4 linked regions of the Homo sapiens genome follow. The protein of the gene in region 2 interacts with the protein of the main gene of each other region in a biochemical or structural test. Each region holds a gene or a part of one and is shown on either strand. Other genes may lie near its edges.

What was found.
Region 1: the proteins of IRF1 (region 2) and DCAF1 form a complex in vitro, tested with the Homo sapiens proteins (one study listed by BioGRID).
Region 3: the proteins of IRF1 (region 2) and STAT1 form a complex in vitro, tested with the Homo sapiens proteins (one study listed by BioGRID).
Region 4: the proteins of IRF1 (region 2) and XAF1 form a complex in vitro, tested with the Homo sapiens proteins (one study listed by BioGRID).

The regions. Positions count from the first base shown.
Region 1 is NC_000003.12:51,399,001-51,406,038, forward strand, and holds part of DCAF1 (DDB1- and CUL4-associated factor 1), read right to left. Parts: intron 4,396-7,038; coding exon 4,143-4,395; intron 1-4,142. UniProt on the Homo sapiens protein: Acts both as a substrate recognition component of E3 ubiquitin-protein ligase complexes and as an atypical serine/threonine-protein kinase, playing key roles in various processes such as cell cycle, telomerase regulation and histone modification.
Region 2 is NC_000005.10:132,481,108-132,487,810, reverse strand, and holds the end of IRF1 (interferon regulatory factor 1), read left to right. Parts: intron 1-680; coding exon 681-857; intron 858-966; coding exon 967-1,016; intron 1,017-1,124; coding exon 1,125-1,254; intron 1,255-1,437; coding exon 1,438-1,560; intron 1,561-2,094; coding exon 2,095-2,144; intron 2,145-3,313; coding exon 3,314-3,449; intron 3,450-3,735; coding exon 3,736-3,860; 3' UTR 3,861-6,202; downstream 6,203-6,703. UniProt on the Homo sapiens protein: Transcriptional regulator which displays a remarkable functional diversity in the regulation of cellular responses.
Region 3 is NC_000002.12:190,969,156-190,976,193, reverse strand, and holds part of STAT1 (signal transducer and activator of transcription 1-alpha/beta), read left to right. Parts: intron 1-282; coding exon of another isoform or gene 283-306; coding exon 307-382; coding exon of another isoform or gene 383-386; exon of another isoform or gene 387-656; intron 657-1,261; coding exon 1,262-1,364; intron 1,365-5,476; coding exon 5,477-5,491; 3' UTR 5,492-7,038. UniProt on the Homo sapiens protein: Signal transducer and transcription activator that mediates cellular responses to interferons (IFNs), cytokine KITLG/SCF and other cytokines and other growth factors.
Region 4 is NC_000017.11:6,773,013-6,776,152, forward strand, and holds the end of XAF1 (XIAP-associated factor 1), read left to right. Parts: intron 1-100; coding exon 101-157; 3' UTR 158-2,635; downstream 2,636-3,140. UniProt on the Homo sapiens protein: Seems to function as a negative regulator of members of the IAP (inhibitor of apoptosis protein) family. Inhibits anti-caspase activity of BIRC4. Induces cleavage and inactivation of BIRC4 independent of caspase activation.

The sequences.
Region 1 (7,038 bases), on a different chromosome or scaffold from region 2:
GTTGCTTGGCAGTTGTATTCTCCCGGAGACCTTTTGCTCTCCTAAGGGCCTGGACACAGTTCCCCTGCTTCCTGCCTGGGAGGCGCTGAAGGGATCAAGCGAGTGCCATCTGAAGCTTCCCCCCATGCCACTTTAAATGGCTGCAAAGGGGCAGAGCTGACGGGAGCAGTGAGTAAGCCTCCATGGCCCTTGGCCTCTGCTGTCCTTCAAGGATACGCACAGGCCTGCCTGACCCCAAGAGACCACTAGAAAGGCAGGCTAAGACCAGGCAAAAGTGAGAGATGTATCTTTTCTGAAACACCTTAGTCACTCCCTTCAATCCTCAGAAGACCGACCACCAAGGCAGAGATAGTCACCCTAGATTCATGCCTCTGTAATTTCAGAATATAGTCTGCAAATTATATTCCCAAAAAGGTGCAGGCCAATTTGCAGCAATACAAGAGAAGTAGCTACCCATCCAGAGGCAGGAGGCCAGCGGGAGCAGTGTGACGCCCTGGAAGACAGCACTGTCTCTGATGAGGACCCTCTCTGCTTGACAATCTGCCTTCTCTGGCAGCACACGGACACATTAACACTTCTGGAAGGATCTGTTAAGGGGTGAAACTTAAGTGGTAGCAAAAAGGACCCTCAAGATGAGGTAGATACACCATGTCTGGCTGATCAAAATCAGAAAGAAACAGGGTACCTAGCTTGTAGGGACTCTAATATTCGCTGAGTCAAAGAAAAGGAAAGTTCTCAGTGCCCAATTTGATTACTCGTAGCTCAGGAGGCTATGAAACCATTTTACCTAGGTCCCCCATAAAACAGACAAACCCTGAGCCCGTAAAACAGACAAACCCTGAGCTGGAGCCCTGCAAATGCCCCATGTGGTAAGGGGCAGCCACTAGATGCAAAGAATCCCTCATCAGCCTTTTTCCAGTGCCTAAGAGAATCAACTCTTGGACAAACAGAGAGCAATCATGTTCCCAAACCTTCCTTCATTCATTATCCCCAAACACAACTTCCTTTAGGAGGAAAACTGAAGTGGACAAAGGAAAACCAAGAAAAGCATGGCAATGATACAAAAAAGTCTGGAAGTAAGCAAAAGAAATGGCTGACAAAACCAGTGTTCCTGGGTCTAAGTGGGCACAAGAGTGGCCTGACTGTATTGGTGATGTATTGGTGAAGAGTAGGAAAACAAGATGGAGATGGCAAAGAACTATTATCTAACACAGCTGAACAAAGCAAGCCTCAGCTCCTCTGCTGTAAGAGCTCCAGGAGGAAGTGTCACAGGAGGGTGTGGGGCCTCCTCCCCAGAGCCAAGTCCAGCACTGTGTCCCCACCCCATACCACAAACTTGCCTGGTCCCTGCGGCAGCATCCACAGCATCCCCCAGGACTCATGCTCTCCACAAGCCAACAATGCCAGACCCACCGGCCTGAGACCCTTCTGCCCAGCAGCTATGCAGCTCTTAAGAACTAAGAATCTTAACCACGCTGTAGCACATCTAAGAACTGTAAATGCAGCTTAACGAGGTCACAGCACAATCTTCTTTAAGCAAGTAACTGTCAGGCTCAAGGTCTGAGAGAAAACCTCCAGGGCTTGGGCACCAACTCCCCTCTGGTGGTCAGACCATAGGACGCCTTTCTCTACCTTCCTTATCCTTTCCCCACCTTCCTTATCCTTTCCCCATTCTCCAAGTGTTGAAGTGACCCAATCCCAAACCCTGGTTAGGACCTCCCATTCTGAAAGGTCGCTAAGGCAGACAATCTAGGTATAATTAATCCCTGTAGTGTTTAACCTATCGCTCTACAACATACAGGTTCTGGAGGCAGGGCTGACAAGCAGAGACACATAAAGATCTCAGAATCAGGCCGGGTGCAGTGGCTGATGCCTGTATCCCAGCACTTTGGGAGGCCAAAGCAGGCGGATCACGACGTCAGGAGATCAAGACCATCCTGGCTAACACGGTGAAACCCTGTCTCTACTAAAAATACAAAAAATTAGCTGGGGGTGGTGGCGGGCGCCTGTAGTCCCAGCTACTCAGGAGGCTGAGGCAAGAGAATGGCATGAACCCGGGAGGCGGAGCTTGCAGTGAGCCAAGACTGCGCCACTGCACTCCAGCCTGGGCAACAGAGTGAGACTCCATCTCAAAAAAAAAAAAAAAAAAAAAAGATCTCAGAATCAAGCTGTTTCTCTTCCTAGGGCCAGGGCTCTGCATCTGCAATCAGGGAGTCCCTGCAGACTCCAGGGCCTACGTAAAGGTACGTGGGGGCGCATGGGTGTGGTTTTCTATAGTTTCTATGGCTTTCACCCTATCCTAAAAGGGCTCTTCATAAGCCCAGTAAGGTTCAGAGCTACTGCTCTAAAGGATTAGTGTTAGGCAAAACCATGGGTGCTAAGAATGCTCTCCTTGCTGACAGCAGCTGGCTCTTCTATGAAACACAGAAAGAGCCATGGAGTGTGCTCCAGATGCCACCTCTGCATCTCCACCTCAATTCTGAAGTCCACTCTGAGACGTCCTCAAGTTGTGATCCATTATTTTCACATCGTAAATATTCTCATAAAGTAACAACATTCTCACAACTGATAGAGTTAAAGTTTTCCAGATTACCTTTGGCTTGAAAGAAGGAATTTCCTCAACAGCTAAAAGAGGCAGTAATTGTACAGGCCAAATACAAACTGAGTGGCTTTATATTCAAATTAAGAATGGAAAAATTAAAGTGATGCTCTCTTATTTTGGGAGCACCACCATCAGCTGGCCTGCTGTTTGCTGACCCTGCGAACCTGCCCTGCTAACTACTTGTAATTGAAAGGAGGTATAACTTGTTTCCCATGTCTCACTATTCACACGTGACAAAAACGTTCATTAAAACTTTGTCTGACCAGGCTTCGGCCTACTCCACTGAATCACCTCAGCCTCCAAGTATGAAAAAACAGAAGTTGATGAACAGCAGATGAACATATAGAAGACACTCCCCTACCCTCCCACCCTCAAGCTTCCTCAAAATACAGCCTTGGTAAGAAGATTCATGTACAGCTGCAGAGCTAACAGCCTCTTTGAACTATTTGCTGATTTCTGCAGGATTCATTACCATAGTCAGGGGACAACTTGACTTCAGAAACCTAATGGGAAATAACTAGAAGAACTGGAGTTTGTTCCTCAAAATTTGGATTAAGAAAAAAAGGTAAATAAAAGGAAGTGAATAAACCAGAAGCCAAAGGGAAAATATTTTCCCCTTGGCTGTTAGGAGGGATTAGCCAAAGGGAGACAGGAAAGGGCTCCTCCACAAGAGGGCCTGCATTTCTTTATAATTCACCCCAAAAAGAACAGCACCCCATGAGGGGCTGCTTCTGACTGATTCTAGCCATGCCTCTCGGCGGAGAGCTACACTTTGGCCTTTCATTCTAAGGCTAATCCTCTGAAGCAGGAGTTGACAAACTACAAGCCCACCACCTATTTTTGCAAAACAAAGTTTTATTAGAACACAGCCACAATCATTCATTTACGGATTGTCTATGACTGCTTTCTCACTACAACAGCAGAGTTGAAGAGCTGCAACAAAGGCCATATACCCTACAAAGCATTTTTTTTTTTTTTTTTTTTTTTTTGAGATGGAGTCTCACTCTATTATCCCAGCCTGGAGTGCAGTGGCACGATCTCGGCTCACTGCAACCTCCGCCTCCCAGGTTCAAGCGATTCTCCTGCCTCAGCCTCCCAAGTAGCTGGGATTATAGGCATGTGCCACCACGCCCAGCTAATTTTGTATTTTTAGTAGAGACAGGATTTCATCATGTTGCCCAGGCTGGTCTCGAACTCCTGACCTCAGGTGATCCACCCGCCTCAGCCTCCAAAGTGCTGGGATTACAGGCGTGAGCCACCGTGCCCGGCTGCATAAAATATTTACTGTCTGATCTTACAGAAAAAGTCTGCCAATCTCTACTTGAAAGATAAGAAATGACAGCCATTTGGTTGGGTTCCACAGTCTGACAGGAGAGGAGGGCAGAGATGCAAAGGTGCTTTGCCTCAAGAGACCAGAGTAGTGAATCAAATTATGGGGCACAGAACCGTGGTATGGCTTGCCCTCTAAGTTGTATGGGCACAAAAGAAGGGATCTTGCCCTGGGTGCCAAGGCTCAGCCTGAACTCTGCCCTATACTTACTGTCCCCCAGGATCAGTTCCACCTCCTCATCTGCATCAGAGTCTTCATCCTCCCCGTCCTCTCCCTCCTCTAGAAGGTTTGCTAGCTCCTCATCAGAGGGAGAGAAGTCATTGTCCCCATCTTCCCCTGCGTTCTCATTATTGTCGTCCTCCTCCAACTCCGCCTCCAGCAACTGGTCAGTGTCAAGCTCATCTAAATCATCGGTGTCATCATCATCTTCATCATCATCTTCTTCCTCCTGTTCTTCCTCTTCCTGGTAAGAAAGCGTAATGTTCATTAGTACAAACACAGAGGCCTGACCCATGGGGGCCACATGGCGGGTCGACCAAAGAGACAGGGTAGGAAACTGTCAGTAGAGGGTAGTAGTGATCTAGACGAGCACAGACTTCATGAGCCAGCCAGACTTGTCAGTGATGGCTGAGATAGGCACACATGTCCCTCAAGACGGTCAAAGCACCCCTCAGACAAGGATTAATGGTCACATAGCCCTTATGCAAGGAAACAGACAACTCGCTTCACAGAAGTCTCTGCCTTCAATATTCTAGGAGCCCAAGGGGACTCTTCTTTCTCACCTGCATCAACCAAAGCAAGTGAAATCAGCTGAGACACTAGAAAAAATCCTTTTACCTGGAATCTAAAATGCAATGCTTTAACAAAATGGAAGAACACAACTGCTCATTATCTCCTCAGCCCTTCAAGCTCTTGCCCTTGATCTTCTAACCAAGAATGTGGATAAGCTCCTAACTATGCTATCACAAACATTTGATCAGAACAACATTGCAACAAAAGACTTAAAATATAGAACACTAACAGAAACCCATATTTCCTGTCATAAGCCAAAAAGAAAAAAAAGTATGCTGGAGAAACTATCTTTCTTTCCATTCTTACAAGAACTTGCAAAGGCAAGAAAATTACCAGAACATCAATGAAATACTTTGTTCTAGGGACTCTGGGCTTTGTAAATGGTACATTCTGGCATCTGCCACAGATTTCAGGTTTGCATTAGAATCCCAACTGTTTCCCTTCAAAAGGGAGAGGACACAAAGATACCTCTTTGCTTTGACAGGGATAAGAGGCATTTCCAAGTAAACGTAGCTGCCACTCAAGACACTTATCTTTCTGCTCAAACATCAACTGTCAGCCTTGCCAATAGCAAAGGATTCTAATTGTTACAATAATAAAATGTAAAATTCATTTAATACATCAACCTAATGAAATTCAAGATGGAATAAGCCCAACGTAAGCACAAAAAAATTTTTTTTGTTCTTATTATTTTAAAACTTATACTCAGTGGTTACATCTTTTTTCATTTTGAAGGTGTTATTGCCTGCCAAGCACTTAAAAAACAAGCATTTTGTGCTTACCCAGCCACTAGAAACCAGTGTGTAACATAAGCTAGGATCATTCAGCAGGGTAGCTCCGCTTTGTGGACTTCTGGTAATTTTGGAACCACCATTAGTGACTTTTTGATAAACTGTGTAATTCAGTAATTTAGACTCTTCAAAATTTCTGCCAGTTATGTTGGAAAAACTGAGCCCCTTTTAAATACCTAGTACTCCTAATACTTGTGCAAGTGCGTGTATGGTCTGTACCAGATTCGGTGGGAGCATTTGTGTATGTGCCAACACACACACACATAGAAGGCCTGAGACTATTCCAAAGCCTTGGCCACACATCCCCTCCAGAGGTGAGTGGATAAATAACTACTAAGCATTCACCCGCCTCAAAGGAACTATGAGTGTCTGGAGTCAACAATGATAAACTGAAACACAGACAGGCTCTCAGCCCCTACAAGCACATAAGCTCATACAAATAACTGGGAAAGGAGAGCGGGGTCAAAATTCAGGGGATATCATCCAAGTGCTTACCAGATTACAACTTTTGCCTCTTTTTCCAGGCGTATTTTCATAGACTTGACCAAAATTAGCTAATCCACTAACAAAGTGCCACAGTTAAAAATAAGTAAGGAAGAAAGTACCCAGGGCCCTGTGTCTTAAGGCTTCGTGGACAGAACACTTATATTTAAAATTTAAGATAGCACAACTAAAGGTCCACGGTTGAGTGTGTACATGAAAGGTTAAACTGCTCAAATAGGCATGGGCTAGCCAGAAAATTCATGAAGACAATTCTCTTTCATTTTGAAGAACATTGAGGCTTAGCTGATCTAGAAGAACTGAACAAAAAGCTTCCATATCAAGAGCAATCCTGGAATATTTTCAAGCAGGGTCTAAGCTTTGAACTAGATACCATTCCAAACTCTTCCAGCAGCAGACAAACCCAAATTTTACTTAATTTTATAGCAGAAGAAACAGATGTATATATATTCATCCCAGAAGGCCACAAACACATATGTGACCATGAGAGAGAGGAGGGGAAATTAGTAGGAAAGAGATCTACCTGAATCTCAAGTTGAGCACCTCACTTTGTCGTCTCTACTTTGTATTTAATGCCCAATGCTGATTTCTCACCATGCATTTTGTCACACATGGACATAGCCATAAACTCACTTTCCAAATTTTAAATCTGAAACTGGGATCATGAAGCAGAGGCTCACAAGACTCATCCAAAATGCTGTGGCAGAACCCAAAAGAGATTCTAGGAAGCAATTTTAGGTGCATTCTCTGCTGGTCAAGTAACTGGTGGCATGAACCCCTCTCCTTCAGATCTAAAGAATAAAGCTTCCAATAATGAGTGGTCCAAAAAGTAAAAACTAAAAATAATTATTTAATGAAAAAGCAAAGCTTAGCTGGGCACAACGGCACACACCTGTAGTCCCAGCTACTCAGGAAGCTGAGGCAGGAGGATCACTTGAACCCAGGAATTCAAGGCTACATTGAACTACGATTGTGCCACTGCACTCCAGCCTGGGCAACAGAGTGAGATCCCATTTCTTTGA
Region 2 (6,703 bases):
TTACTGGGAAGAGGGGCTGGTGGCAGACTTGTGTTTCTGGAGAAGAGAGTCGATCATCTCAGCAAATTCTCAAAGGGAAAAGCCAAGATCTTAGAAAGTGTGTGGCTTCAGGGGGTTTGTGGCTAGATGAAAGTTCTCCCTGGCAAAAGCATCTGTGAAAAGCAGCTGTAAGCCAGGGCACTGAAAGAGACCCAGGTCTGCCTTTTTCTTCGTGTTGACCAAGGCCCTTGGTCCAAGCCTCATGTGGTTGGTGGCCTCCTTTATCCTTGAGAGATGGAGCTCTAGGCCCATCTCAGAACAGTCAGCCCACCCATTTAGTAACTGTTCTCTGCTGCCCAGTCTGTGCCCACTCTACCCTCTGGCTGCTGATAGCCCAAGGAGGAAGACTGGGCATAGTCTGAGACACAGATAGTACACTTTGGGGATATGGGGACTCTAGTGCTTCTGGCTGGGCCCTTCACTGAGGCCCGCTAGATGTGTTTAAGCCAAGCCTGGGCATTTGAGAAGGCCCAGGGCCTAGGACCTGCAGAGTGTCACCGGGAGTACCTGCTGGTTTGACCACTGTGGCTCTCTGGTAGCATAAGAGGTCAGGGGTACCTTGCCTTCCTCCTTCAGGCCAGGGGCAGCTGAGGATCCCTACCCATGGCCCTGACGATCCTCTTTTTTCTCCTGCCCTCTAGGCCGATACAAAGCAGGGGAAAAGGAGCCAGATCCCAAGACGTGGAAGGCCAACTTTCGCTGTGCCATGAACTCCCTGCCAGATATCGAGGAGGTGAAAGACCAGAGCAGGAACAAGGGCAGCTCAGCTGTGCGAGTGTACCGGATGCTTCCACCTCTCACCAAGAACCAGAGAAAAGGTATCCAAGGACTCTGGGTCCTTGGGAAGCCCTCAGGGAGGGAGGGTAGAAGGAGGTCAGCTGGGGCTGGAGAGCCTGCACCAAGGCTGACAGCCCGTCTGCCCCACAGAAAGAAAGTCGAAGTCCAGCCGAGATGCTAAGAGCAAGGCCAAGAGGAAGGTGAGTGTGGTCCTAAGCAGCCAGGCCTTTGGTCACCTGTGGGCCAGGGTGAGCAGTGGAAGAAATGCTAAGGTGGGCCTGGGCCTAAGCTGCTTTCTCCCTCGACAGTCATGTGGGGATTCCAGCCCTGATACCTTCTCTGATGGACTCAGCAGCTCCACTCTGCCTGATGACCACAGCAGCTACACAGTTCCAGGCTACATGCAGGACTTGGAGGTGGAGCAGGCCCTGACTCCAGGTGAGCTGGTCCAGGTCTGGCAGGAGACCCCACAGGTCAGTGGGATGACTCTTTCTCTTGGAGGCATGGTGCTGGCACATGGTGGCCCATTAGTGCAGGCTGCAGGGTTGGTCGGAGGGCGCTCGATGTCTTGCAAACTAAGAAAGCACACAACCTTGACCTGTGGCTTCTGCTGTTCCCCAGCACTGTCGCCATGTGCTGTCAGCAGCACTCTCCCCGACTGGCACATCCCAGTGGAAGTTGTGCCGGACAGCACCAGTGATCTGTACAACTTCCAGGTGTCACCCATGCCCTCCACCTCTGAAGGTTGGTGCTCCTGGGGCCTGGCCTGCCTGCTTGACTGTCTGGGTCCTGTGAAGGGCTTCCTGAGAGAGAAAAGATGATCAGAACTCCACCTGGCACTGAATTGATTGAGTTGGGCATTGCCCAGTCTTAGCCACCATAGGGGGAGGCAAGCGACGGGGACACTAGGAAGGCAGTTCAGAGTGGGCTGCAGTACAGTGGGGGCTGGTGAGAGGAGGGAAGGGGGCCAGGGGCTGCATTTTGGGGTGCTGGTTCTCCTTCCTCCTCTGTAGCCCAGCATCTGAGGGTGAGGAAGGAAGTAGGGTAGGGGTGGGAAGCGGCGTGGCTTCAGGGTTTGAGAGGCTGAGTCACCAGGCCAGGGTCCTGTTCTGGAATCTCTATGGCAGATAGGTCCACCGGGAGGGTGTGTGTGTGTGTGTGTGTGTCAGAGAGACAGAGAGACAGAGAAAGGGCAGGGGGATCTGGTGGGCTGGAACTGGAACTGCAGGGTGAGTGTGGCTGACTGCCAGCCAACCTCTCTGCTTTCCCCATCCACAGCTACAACAGATGAGGATGAGGAAGGGAAATTACCTGAGGACATCATGAAGGTAAAGCCCCTTCCTACCTGGGCACTCTTGAAGTGACCGTTTCTCAGTGAGGAGAGAGAACCAGTGAAGCTTCCAAATCAGAGGATGGGTAGCTGCTGTTGTCACCTGGCTGCTTGCATTGTCCCACAAGTGCCACATTCACGTGGCTTGACTGGTGGGAAAGCCACCATGGGAAGGGAAGGCAGGTGGGAGGCCTGGCCTCTGACAGGCCGTCCTGAAGCAAGCCTTGGGGCATCAGACAGCTCTGTGAGTCAGGCACTATCAGCGATGGGTCCCTGGCCTGCATCCTCTGCCCCAACATGCCCCAGCCCTGCTAGTTCGGGAAATGCACATCAGGCTTCAATAATCAGCCTTTAGGATCCGTTAATATGATGATGGCTTTATAGAAAAAGTTAGCAAATTATCCTCCAGGTTTTTTTTTCTGCTTCAGTTTTGAAAGTGAATATAGTTTTTGCAGCCGGGGGCAGTGGCTCATGCCTGTAATCCCAGCACTTTGGAAGGCGAAGGTGGGTGGATCACCTGAGGTCAGGAGTTTGAGACCAGCCTGACTAACATGGTGAAACCCATCTCTACCAAAAATATAAAAATTAGCTGGGCCTGGTGGCGCATGCCTGTAATCCCAGCTACTCTGAAGGCTGAGGCAGGAGAATCGCTTGAACCTGAGAGGCGGAGGTTGCAGTGAGCTGAGATTGTGTCATTGCACTCCAGCCTGGGCAACAAGAGCAAAACTCCATTTCAAAAAAAAGTTTTTGCAGTAGTTGTACGCCAGCTGTTCCATTAGCCCAAAAAATTGAGACATGGATGTCGTTCCTTATCTCTAGCTTTTCTAGTCATCTTTTCTTGATTTATTATGCTAACCTTTGTTTTAAGCCACATTCCCTCTTACTATGTCCTTACACAGTTGAGAGGGAAGTCGTGGAGATGCTATACCAGAGAGTGGGTGTGAGAGGGGTGGGAAAATGAATTGAGGACCAGTGCCAACATGCATTTCTGCCTCCTCCCTCCCGGGCCCTTGTCCTGACTGCAGTGCACTTCTGCATCCTATCTGAGATTGTGAAAATGGCCAAGGGTGTGATACTGGCTGAGAGGAGCTGGCTCATTGAGGGCAGGGCCACAGGGTGAGTCTGCACTGGAAGGGAGTTGATAGCCTCTTGCTCTTCTGTCCCCAGCTCTTGGAGCAGTCGGAGTGGCAGCCAACAAACGTGGATGGGAAGGGGTACCTACTCAATGAACCTGGAGTCCAGCCCACCTCTGTCTATGGAGACTTTAGCTGTAAGGAGGAGCCAGAAATTGACAGCCCAGGGGGTAAGAAGGCCCTGGATCCTTATGGCTTCTTAGATGAGGGAGAACCACGTAGGGATGGAGAAAGCTTGGGGGCAGGGCCAGGGAGCAGGGCGGTAAAGCATCTGGGGTACTGACACATTGTGAATTAGCTACGGCTGCCATGCCTTAAGGTTTGCCTGAAGCTGAGTGGATGTTTACTGCTGTGCTGGGAAGAGCAGAGGCCATGTCTATGGCCTTCAGGGGTAGGGGGAAGCACACCTGATGCCACCGTCCCCTACCCTCATACAACCTTCTTCACATCTTCTAGGGGATATTGGGCTGAGTCTACAGCGTGTCTTCACAGATCTGAAGAACATGGATGCCACCTGGCTGGACAGCCTGCTGACCCCAGTCCGGTTGCCCTCCATCCAGGCCATTCCCTGTGCACCGTAGCAGGGCCCCTGGGCCCCTCTTATTCCTCTAGGCAAGCAGGACCTGGCATCATGGTGGATATGGTGCAGAGAAGCTGGACTTCTGTGGGCCCCTCAACAGCCAAGTGTGACCCCACTGCCAAGTGGGGATGGGGCCTCCCTCCTTGGGTCATTGACCTCTCAGGGCCTGGCAGGCCAGTGTCTGGGTTTTTCTTGTGGTGTAAAGCTGGCCCTGCCTCCTGGGAAGATGAGGTTCTGAGACCAGTGTATCAGGTCAGGGACTTGGACAGGAGTCAGTGTCTGGCTTTTTCCTCTGAGCCCAGCTGCCTGGAGAGGGTCTCGCTGTCACTGGCTGGCTCCTAGGGGAACAGACCAGTGACCCCAGAAAAGCATAACACCAATCCCAGGGCTGGCTCTGCACTAAGAGAAAATTGCACTAAATGAATCTCGTTCCCAAAGAACTACCCCCTTTTCAGCTGAGCCCTGGGGACTGTTCCAAAGCCAGTGAAATGTGAAGGAAAGTGGGGTCCTTCGGGGCGATGCTCCCTCAGCCTCAGAGGAGCTCTACCCTGCTCCCTGCTTTGGCTGAGGGGCTTGGGAAAAAAACTTGGCACTTTTTCGTGTGGATCTTGCCACATTTCTGATCAGAGGTGTACACTAACATTTCCCCCGAGCTCTTGGCCTTTGCATTTATTTATACAGTGCCTTGCTCGGCGCCCACCACCCCCTCAAGCCCCAGCAGCCCTCAACAGGCCCAGGGAGGGAAGTGTGAGCGCCTTGGTATGACTTAAAATTGGAAATGTCATCTAACCATTAAGTCATGTGTGAACACATAAGGACGTGTGTAAATATGTACATTTGTCTTTTTATAAAAAGTAAATTGTTTATAAGGGGTGTGGCCTTTTTAGAGAGAAATTTAACTTGTAGATGATTTTACTTTTTATGGAAACACTGATGGACTTATTATTGGCATCCCGCCTGAACTTGACTTTGGGGTGAACAGGGACATGCATCTATTATAAAATCCTTTCGGCCAGGCGCGGTGGCTCACACCTGTAATCCCAGCACTTTGGGAGGCCGAGATGGGTGGATCACCTGAGGTCAGGAGTTCGAGACCAGCCTGGTGAAACTCCATTTCTACTAAAAATGCAAAAATTAGCTGGGCGTGGTTGCGGGTGCTTGTAATCCCAGCTACTCAGGAGGCTGAGGCAAGAGAATCGCTTGAACCTGGGAGGTGGAGGTTGCAGTGAGCCGAGAACATGCCATTGCACTCCAGCCCGGGCACCAAAAAAAAAAAAAAAAAAAAAAACCTTTCATTTGGCCGGGCATGGTGGCTTATGCCTGTAATCCTGGCACTTTGGGAGGCCAAGGTGGGCAGATCACCTGAGGTCAGGAGTTTGAGACCAGCCTGGCCAACATGGTGAAACCTCATCTCTACTAAAAATACAAAAATTAGGCCGGGCACGGTGGCTCACGCCTGTAATCCCAGCACTTTGGGAGGCAGAGGCGGGCGGATCACGAGGTCAGGAGATCAAGACCATCCTGGCTAACACGGTGAAACCCCGTCTCTACTAAAAATATAAAAAATTAGCCGGGCCTAGTGGCGGGTGCCTGTAGTCCCAGCTACTCGGGAGGCTGAGGCAGGAGAATGGCATGAACCCCGGAGGCAGAGCTTGCAGTGAGCCGAGATTGCACCACTGCACTACAGCCTGGGCGACAGAGCGAGACTCCGTCTCAAAAAAAAAAAAAAAAATTAGCCGGGCCTGGTGGCGGGCGCCTGTAATCCCAGCTACTGTGGAGGCTGAAGCACAAGAATCACTTGAACCCGGGAGATGGAGGTTGCAGTGAGCTGAGACTGTGCCACTGCACTCCAGCCTGGGTGACAAGAGTGAGACTTTGTCTCAAAAAAAAAAAAATCCTTTTGTTTATGTTCACATAGACAATGGCAGAAGGAGGGGACATTCCTGTCATAGGAACATGCTTATATAAACATAGTCACCTGTCCTTGACTATCACCAGGGCTGTCAGTTGATTCTGGGCTCCTGGGGCCCAAGGAGTGTTAAGTTTTGAGGCATGTGCCATAGGTGATGTGTCCTGCTAACACACAGATGCTGCTCCAAAAAGTCAGTTGATATGACACAGTCACAGACAGAACAGTCAGCAGCCCAAGAAAGGTCCTCACGGCTGCTGTGCTGGGTAGCACTTGCCATCCAGTTTCTAGAGTGATGAAATGCTCTGTCTGTACCGTTCAATACAGTAGGCACTGGCACTAGCCACATGTGCCAGCTAAGCACTTGAAATGTGGCCAGTGCAATAAGGAATTGAACTTTTAATTGCATTTAATAAACTGTATGTAAATAGTCACATGTGGTCAGTGGTTACCATATTGAACAGTGCAGGTAGATACTGGACTGGGGGCAGATCTGAGGGAGAGGGGTTTGAGTAGTGGGAGGACACTGGGGATAGGGGCTTGGGGCTATTTACCTGCCATTTTGAGTAGTTTGCTATTTTAGCAGCCAACAATAACTATTGGTGCTGAATACCAGCCCTGCAGTGTAGCATGAGACAGGTCCATGCACACATGCATTAGGAAAACACCTTCATGAAGCAGGATTCTGCCTGGGCTGATGCACACAACCTCTATGGAGGGTAAACAGTGTTTCTGAAGACCGTAGTTTGGGAACCCCTGACATATGACAATGCCCCCTTAGATAAGCTCAAGTTACAGGAATGTCTGAGGGTGGAAGGTGTGGATATGTGCTTTTCCTGTCTCCCTCTTCAGTGTCTGGCCATGGGGCATAAACACTACCCAGCAGTAGGTAGGCTGGCCAAGAGAAGCCAGCTTGCATCACCAGCATCATCTAG
Region 3 (7,038 bases), on a different chromosome or scaffold from region 2:
AGAACTTTGCATATTTTGGGCTCAGACTTCTTGTAAGATTTCAAGTTGTGTAAAGAGAAAGCTCCTAGCTAGTGTCCTGCTGAACACTAGCTTATTTCCAGACTGAATTCAGATCCTTCTTCTCGTTGTTTCTGCATTCCCACTAGAATTTTAGGTGACTCAGGCAGGGAGGTTATAGCTCCTTAAAGTTTTAGGAGGCTAAGCTGTCTAGAAACACAGTAGAACTTTAATCCCCCCGAAAAGTTGATGTTGTATTCTGATGGAATTTCGGTTGATGGAAAGCGTACACAATGTGTTTATTTCTAGCACCAGAGCCAATGGAACTTGATGGCCCTAAAGGAACTGGATATATCAAGACTGAGTTGATTTCTGTGTCTGAAGTGTAAGTGAACACAGAAGAGTGACATGTTTACAAACCTCAAGCCAGCCTTGCTCCTGGCTGGGGCCTGTTGAAGATGCTTGTATTTTACTTTTCCATTGTAATTGCTATCGCCATCACAGCTGAACTTGTTGAGATCCCCGTGTTACTGCCTATCAGCATTTTACTACTTTAAAAAAAAAAAAAAAGCCAAAAACCAAATTTGTATTTAAGGTATATAAATTTTCCCAAAACTGATACCCTTTGAAAAAGTATAAATAAAATGAGCAAAAGTTGATCAGAGTGGGAAAGTAGTTCTTTTCAATCTAGAAAAGGCCAAAGTAATGATTGAGATACACTGTCTCCACTTGCTTTGATTTTGTTGTTTCATTTTATAAAAGGTAGAAAAAATTTTGGAAATGTCATTGTCAGTTATTTGGCCTGCAGCACTGTCTTGGGGTGAATGGATGTAGCCTTCATGTAAAAACACTGTGTGGAGCAGCTTTATCTGCATTCAAACCTCAAGGTAGGGATGAGGGACTCCCCAGACATTTCTCTGGTGCTTTTCTGTCCAGGGTAAGCCACGAGGCATTGTCATCTCAGGGTAGTGCACCGCACATGCTCACACCTAGGCTTACCCAGGCAGAAGCGGCACAGATTCCAGTCTGGCTATTGCTTATCACATCCCTGGAGTGTGAAACATTTCCCAAGGGGCTGGGCTGGGGACATGAGCCTCCCATGAGCTGTACTTTTGCAAATGTATTTTACAAGTGTATGCACTTACCCAAAATAAAAATATAACGTGATAATTCAATTACAGACAAAAGATAAAGTGTGTAAGTATGCACTAGTGCTTTCATCACTCAGATGTTGACATTGCTCTTTTCTTTTTCCCCATTTTAGTCACCCTTCTAGACTTCAGACCACAGACAACCTGCTCCCCATGTCTCCTGAGGAGTTTGACGAGGTGTCTCGGATAGTGGGCTCTGTAGAATTCGACAGTATGGTGAGTACCACGGCTGGCCTGTGTGTAGCTCTCAATAAGTGTGTGTGCTCAGAGGCAGGGAGCGCACCATGGCAGATCCCGGGCCTGTCTGCGGGAGGGAGCCCTGGCGGAGCCAAGGAGAGTGCAGTGCTCAGATGAGCCATGACAAGTTGGAGCTGCTGGATTTAAACCACCTACATCATCAGTGGGATTTTTATTCCTCGCATTCAGCACCTTCCAAAAAACAAGTGACATTTCTAATATTCAGGTTTCCTCCTCTCCCCTTTAAAGTTGTCCATGTAGAAATTTCATATATTAAGGAACTAAGATTTCTTTGATAAGCAAATGTTTTTCTTCGGAATGCGATTTCATCACTGTGTCTAGGGGAGGGAGTGTTATTTTTAGAAAGGGAGGGACTAACGCTTGGTAGTTACAGTAATTAGAGAGAATTATACTTTAGCAGCAATGAGATTACTTCATCTGCCTTATATTTGAGAGCTAATTTGTACAAGTAGCTCCTGGGGCTGTGAAGGGCTTGCCAAGAGTAAAAGGTTCAAGGAGTGAAATAGTTAATGAGATTCGTGATAGAAATGGGAATATGATTGTCCACAAAAGGGAACATCTTCCTTTTGGAGGGTGCTTTTTTAGTATATCAACTAGTATTGTTTGCCTTTCAGCCTAAAATCCTTCCTCTTAAAGATTGTGCTTGCTTGGCTGGATTTTTGCTGATGCTGTTTAATTTTAAGCTCTTTTCCACATGGAGCTATTCCAGCTCATTTTTAAAAATTTATTTAATGCTTCCAAAAAATATCCTGAGTTATTACTGGCCTTTCTTCCTTACTGTATACCCGGTGCCTGGCAAAAAGTAGGTGCTCAACAAAGAGAGGAAGGCAGGGAGGGGAAAGGTGAGCGAGAATGAGAGGGCGTCACTCTTCAGACATTTGGGGAATGCGATGATAAGGCCTCAGTAAGATCTGCCTGGATTCAGGTTTCTCATGTGTAATTTTTTGACTTTTTTCCTCACCTTAAGCACGGGCTACAATCATTAGAGATTGTACCTTCCTACACTTTCCTGATTGTTGTTGACGAAATAGGCCATTTAGAAAAACAGTTAGCTATTGTGGCAGCGAAATAGTTTCATTCCTATTGGCAAGTGTAAAATGAACCTTTTCTGCATGTAAGAAGGATCCTGCTAGAGTTTCGCTCCCAACACTGCTATAGGCCTGGCACAAAAATGGAATAAATATAAAGCCCTATTCAGAAAATATGTTACATCACAGGAACTGTAAAATGGGGGGATTTTTTATACCTCCTTTGTTGTTCCTGAGCAAATTACATCATCATCACCACCACCATTAATAGGTGACATTAAGCACCTACAGTATACCATGTACTTCACAGGTAGTAACTCATTCAGTCCTCACAGCCACCTTCTGAGTTAGGTGTTATTGTTATTCCTACTTTGACAGATGTGGGAACAGAGCCCCTCCTCCCCACACAGCCCCTTTTATGTAACTTGACTAAGATCAAGCAGTTAGTAAATGGTAGAAAGAATATTTGAATCTACCTAGTGAGTCTCTAGTGCATGCTTTTGTCCGGTATCCTGGAAAGCCTCCCACAAAAAGCTAATCTTTGCCCCATTCAAAACATGCACCCTGAAGAAGCTGTTTGTACAGGATTGGGTTTATTCTGTTATTAAGACAAAGGCATCATGGCCTTTGGGTGAGAGGCCCGTATGTGTTTGGGATTTGGCAATCAGCATTCCATCTCTGTCATCACCATTATTGAGAAAATAGATGGATTGGTTCCCTCTCTGCAGTCCTGTGGAGCAGTTGGACTGCTCTCTCTGCTCTCAGGATGATACTGTGAGAACAATTTAAATATGCTAAGCACATGTCAGGAAACAGTTTTGTGGTCTTTGGACACTCGCTGTAGCCATTCCGTTCCATTTCAGGTGATTTTATTCATTTCATTTGTAGAATAAAATAAATCCATTTCACACACACACACACACACACACACACACACACACACCCTCTATACACCACTAAAGCCTCCCATTAAACCCATAGAAGACTTAAAGAGCTAAAAGAGGCTATAATATAAAAAAAAAAAAAGAAAAGAAAAGAAAAAGAGTTCATAATATAGGCACGGCACTGGTTAGACAACGGTTGAATCAGTCTCTAAATTGGGTTGACTTCACAATGGTTTGCTGTCCTGCCCCTTGGCCATGACTTCCATCCAGCATCTACTCTTAGAATCAGAGTGTATACTCTGAAACAGAAGCAGCTCTCCCCAAGCTGGCTGTCTTCTGCCAAGTCTGGAGGTTGCAGCTCTGAAAGAGGGTGGTACCAGGGGCCAACGCCTGGTGCAGCCTCAGGAGCAACAGGACCATAGGCTCCTGAGGAAATTGTCCAAGAGAGCCAGAGCACCAGTGTTCTCTGCAGTATGACTTGGGCATTTGTTTAGTCTGGATTTCCTGTGTAATCAGTGTTTTCCTCTGGGACTGTAATAGAACCAGTCTACTCTCCAAGAGGCCTTTAGCCAAAGCTCATAATGATAGGACTAGCTATTAATTGTCTACTACTTTCTGTCTACTATACTAAACATTTTACGTATGCCATCTAATTTAACAAGCCTATCTGCTAGGTACTATTAATCCCCTTTTGATAGATGAAGACTTTGAGATTTAGAGAGGTTAAGCCACTTGCCCTGGTCACGCAGTGACAGGATCTGAATCTGGGCTTCCTCTCTTCCTCTATCTATCTATCTCCCCCTCCCTCCCTCTCTTTACCCCCACGGTCCACCCTATTAAGCACACATTTGAAACATCAGCCAGGCCGGGCGCGGTGGCTCACGCCTGTAATCTCAACATTTTGGGAGGCCGGGGCAGGTGGATCACCTGCGATCAGGAGTTTGAGACCAGCCTGGCCAACACGGTGAAACCCCATCTCTACTAAAAATACAAAAATTAGCCAGCCATGGTGGTGTGTGCCTGTAATCCCAGCTACTAGGGGGGCTGAGGCAGGAGGATCGCTTGAACCTGGAAGGTGGAGGTTGCAGTGAGCCAAGATGGTGCCACTGCACTCCAGTCTGGGCAACAGAGGAAGACTCCGTCTCCAATTTGAAAAAAAAAAAGAAAGAAAAAGAAAAGAGAAACATAAGCTAGACTGAAACATAGGGGCAACACTTTCACTGTGCTTTTCAATCCAAAATAATTTTCCTAAGAGCCCACTATGTACCACACACTATTGAGCACTTGGGATTAAAAAAAAGTTCTCCAGAGGCTTTCCAGTCTAGTGCCATGTGTCTCAGTCTTGGTGCTACTGGTATTCGGGGCTTCAGAATTATTTGTTGGGGATTGGTGGGGTGGGGAGCTTTCCTGTGCTTCGTAGGAGGTTCAGCAACACCTCTGGCTTCTACCAAATAGATACCAGTAAGCACATGCACCCTCACAGCCAGATGGGACAATCAGCAATGTCTTCAGCCATTGCCAGGGGACAGAATCATCCTCGATTGAAAGCATCTGGTCTAAGGGGAAAGACCAGTGTGGAAGTCAGACAGGAAGTCACTGGCAGGCTAGTATCCTTTGGATGAACAGTTTACTTACTATAAGTTGTCCTGGTCAAGGCAGCTGGGCAGAAGGCACTGGTGGGGAAGGTGAAGGGGTTCTTAGTAATTCTGCTTCTTTAGTCTGTACCTGAAACACAGTCATTGATTTTACCCACTGAGTGGCCTTTAGGGGAAGTGTATCATTTCCCTCTCCTTCCTCTCTCCCTCTGGCATATGGCTCAGCATTTCCTCACCCGTTTCACATGAGCAGATTTGACACGTTGCTCTGTCCCCAGACTTGCATAACAGCAAAAAGCTTTATGCAGTCTGGATGGATTCACAAAATTAAGCCAGTGGGCAGCAGAGTAATAATCCGTCAGCTTAGGTGATATAAAAGGTCTTGATTAGCCCAGGATAATACATAGTACATGCTGAAGGCCCTCTTATTCCACGGTATTTATTTGCCATTGCAAGTATCTTCCTACTACTTCATTCTAGAATAGACAAGCAATGTTTAATGTATGAGTCTGCATTTCACAAGATCAGTGTAATAAACTTAACCACATTTTGTCTTTTTACAGATGAACACAGTATAGAGCATGAATTTTTTTCATCTTCTCTGGCGACAGTTTTCCTTCTCATCTGTGATTCCCTCCTGCTACTCTGTTCCTTCACATCCTGTGTTTCTAGGGAAATGAAAGAAAGGCCAGCAAATTCGCTGCAACCTGTTGATAGCAAGTGAATTTTTCTCTAACTCAGAAACATCAGTTACTCTGAAGGGCATCATGCATCTTACTGAAGGTAAAATTGAAAGGCATTCTCTGAAGAGTGGGTTTCACAAGTGAAAAACATCCAGATACACCCAAAGTATCAGGACGAGAATGAGGGTCCTTTGGGAAAGGAGAAGTTAAGCAACATCTAGCAAATGTTATGCATAAAGTCAGTGCCCAACTGTTATAGGTTGTTGGATAAATCAGTGGTTATTTAGGGAACTGCTTGACGTAGGAACGGTAAATTTCTGTGGGAGAATTCTTACATGTTTTCTTTGCTTTAAGTGTAACTGGCAGTTTTCCATTGGTTTACCTGTGAAATAGTTCAAAGCCAAGTTTATATACAATTATATCAGTCCTCTTTCAAAGGTAGCCATCATGGATCTGGTAGGGGGAAAATGTGTATTTTATTACATCTTTCACATTGGCTATTTAAAGACAAAGACAAATTCTGTTTCTTGAGAAGAGAATATTAGCTTTACTGTTTGTTATGGCTTAATGACACTAGCTAATATCAATAGAAGGATGTACATTTCCAAATTCACAAGTTGTGTTTGATATCCAAAGCTGAATACATTCTGCTTTCATCTTGGTCACATACAATTATTTTTACAGTTCTCCCAAGGGAGTTAGGCTATTCACAACCACTCATTCAAAAGTTGAAATTAACCATAGATGTAGATAAACTCAGAAATTTAATTCATGTTTCTTAAATGGGCTACTTTGTCCTTTTTGTTATTAGGGTGGTATTTAGTCTATTAGCCACAAAATTGGGAAAGGAGTAGAAAAAGCAGTAACTGACAACTTGAATAATACACCAGAGATAATATGAGAATCAGATCATTTCAAAACTCATTTCCTATGTAACTGCATTGAGAACTGCATATGTTTCGCTGATATATGTGTTTTTCACATTTGCGAATGGTTCCATTCTCTCTCCTGTACTTTTTCCAGACACTTTTTTGAGTGGATGATGTTTCGTGAAGTATACTGTATTTTTACCTTTTTCCTTCCTTATCACTGACACAAAAAGTAGATTAAGAGATGGGTTTGACAAGGTTCTTCCCTTTTACATACTGCTGTCTATGTGGCTGTATCTTGTTTTTCCACTACTGCTACCACAACTATATTATCATGCAAATGCTGTATTCTTCTTTGGTGGAGATAAAGATTTCTTGAGTTTTGTTTTAAAATTAAAGCTAAAGTATCTGTATTGCATTAAATATAATATGCACACAGTGCTTTCCGTGGCACTGCATACAATCTGAGGCCTCCTCTCTCAGTTTTTATATAGATGGCGAGAACCTAAGTTTCAGTTGATTTTACAATTGAAATGACTAAAAAACAAAGAAGACAACATTAAAACAATATTG
Region 4 (3,140 bases), on a different chromosome or scaffold from region 2:
CTCATGCTCTGTAACAAGGGACAGCAATATCCAGAGATATTCTAGGAGCTAGCACTTCTTACTTTAACCATATCAAACTTTTTTTATATCCATTTCTTAGGAGAAATGCCGGTGGTTAGCTTCATCAAAAGGAAAACAAGTGAGAAATTTCAGCTAGATTTGGAAAAGGAAAGGTACTACAAATTCAAAAGATTTCACTTTTAACACTGGCATTCCTGCCTACTTGCTGTGGTGGTCTTGTGAAAGGTGATGGGTTTTATTCGTTGGGCTTTAAAAGAAAAGGTTTGGCAGAACTAAAAACAAAACTCACGTATCATCTCAATAGATACAGAAAAGGCTTTTGATAAAATTCAACTTGACTTCATGTTAAAAACCCTCAACAAACCAGGCGTCGAAGGAACATACCTCAAAATAATAAGAGCCATCTATGACAAAACCACAGCCAACATCATACTGAATGAGCAAAAGCTGGAGCATTACTCTTGAGAAGTAGAACAAGGCACTTCAGTCCTATTCAACATAGTACTGGAAGTCCTCGCCACAGCAATCAGGCAAGAGAAAGAAATAAAAGGCAACCAAAAAGAAAGGAAGTCGAAGTATCTCTGTTTGCAGACGATATGATTCTATATCTAGAAAACCCCATGATCTTGGCCCAAAAGCTCCTAGATCTGATAAACAACTTCAGCTAACTTTCAGGAGACAAAATCAATATACAAAATATGGTAGCATTTTTATACACCAACGACATCCAAGCTGAGAGCCAAATCAAGAATGCAATCCTATTCACAATTGCCACAAAAAGAATAAAATACCTAGGAATACAGCTAACCAGGGAGATGAAAGATCTCTACAACAAAAATTACAAAACACTGCTGAAAGAAATCAGAGATGACACAAATGGAAAAACATTCCATACTTATGGATAGGAAGAATCAATATTGTTAAAATGGCCATACTACCCAAAGCAATTTATAGATTCAATGCTATTCCTATCAAACTACCAATAACATTCTTCACAGAATCAGAAAAAAAAAGCATTAAAATTTATTTGAAACCAAAAAAGAGCCCAAAAAGCCAAAGCAATCCTAAGCAAAAAGAACAAAGCTGGAGGCATCGCATTACCCAACTTCAAACTATACTACAGGGCTACAGTAACCAAAACTGCATGATACTGGTACAAAAGCATGGTGCTGGTACAAAAGCAGACACATAGATCAATGGAACAGAATAGAGGGCCCAGAAATAAAGCTACACACCTACAACCATCTAATCTTTGACAAAGTTGACAAAAATACGCAATGGGGAAAGAATTCCCCATTCAGTAAGTGGTACTGGGATAACTAGCTAGCCATATGCAGAGGATTGAAACTGAACCACTTCCTTACACCATATGCAAAAATCAACTCAAGATGGATTAAAGACTTAAATGTAAAACCCCAAACTATAAAAACTCTGGAAGATAACCTAGGCAATACCATTCTGGACATAGGAACGGAAAAAGATTTCATGACAAAGATCCCAAAAATAATTGTAACGAAAGCAAAAATTGACAAATGGGACATGATTAAACAGAATTACCATTTGACTCAGCAATCCCATTATTGGTTATATACCCAAAGGAATCTAAATCATTCTGTCATAAAGACATATATACACAAATGTTCACGGCAGCACTATACACAATCGCAAAGTCAGGGAATCAAACTAAATGTCCATCAGTGGTAGAAAGGATAAAGAAAATGTGGTGGCAGGGAGTGGTGGCTCATGTCTGTAATCCCAGCACTTTGGGAGGCTGAGGCGGGTGGTTCACCTGAGGTCAGGAGTTTGAGACCAGCCTGGCCAACATGGAGAAACTCCGTCTCCGCTAAAAATACGAAAATTAGCCAGGCGTGGTGGCGAGCACCTGTCATCCCAGCTACTTGGGAGGCCTAGGCGTGAGAATCGCTTGAACCTGGAAGGTGGTGGTTGCAGTGAGCCGAGATCCTGCCACTGCACTCCAGCCTGGGCAACCAAGCGAGACTCTGCCTTAAAAAAAAAAAAAAGAAAATGTGGCACATATACACCATGGAATACTATGCAGCCATAAAAAAGAATGGGATCATGTCCTGTGCAGCAACGTGGATGGAGCTGGAAGCCATTATCCTAAATGAACTCACTCAGAAACAGAAAACCAAATACCACATGTTCTCACTTATAAGTAGAAGCTAAACATTGAGTACACATGGATACAAAGAAGGGAACCGCAGACACTGGGGCCTACCTGAGGTCGGAGCATGGAAGGAGGGTGAGGATCAAAAAACTACCTATCTGGTACTATGCTTTTTATCTGGATGATGAAATAATCTGTACAACAAACCCTGGTGACATGCAATTTACCTATATAGCAAGCCTACACATGTGCCCCTGAACCTAAAAAAAAAGTTAAAAGAAAAACGTTTGGATTATTTTCCCTCTTTCGAACAAAGACATTGGTTTGCCCAAGGACTACAAATAAACCAACGGGAAAAAAGAAAGGTTCCAGTTTTGTCTGAAAATTCTGATTAAGCCTCTGGGCCCTACAGCCTGGAGAACCTGGAGAATCCTACACCCACAGAACCCGGCTTTGTCCCCAAAGAATAAAAACACCTCTCTAAAAGCTGCTCTTCCACCTTTCTTTGGGTTCCGCACTGGTTTTCCAGGGCCAGGAATGGCAGCAGCCAGGACCCCAGGATAAGGGCAGTGCCCAAGGAAAGGGGAGCAGAAGACATTCAGGGAGGGGGAAAGAAATGAGGCTGGGACAGTGGATAAGGGCCAGGTGAAGGGGAGAGGGGCGGCTTCTGAAGGCTTTGGGCAGGGAGAGTGGCTGGGGGAAGCCTAGTAATGCAACCTATCCAGCGGCGGCTTCGGAAAAAACCCGGGGCTGGGTCAGGATGGGAAAGGCAGCGAACTGAACCGTTTTGAGCCCCAAGTTCGGGGCCGAATGTCTTCCCTGTGCGCAGAAGCAAGGGCGGGGGCGTGCCATCCTCACCCGGAGCGCCGGCCGAGCCTCCCGCCTCCCAACGCCTGGCCAGGGCCCCGTCTCGCCCTCTGCACATGGGATCCACTGACCAGGCAACTGCAGGTTTGGGGCTCTGCGACCCGGGGGCAGGAACAGAGCCTTG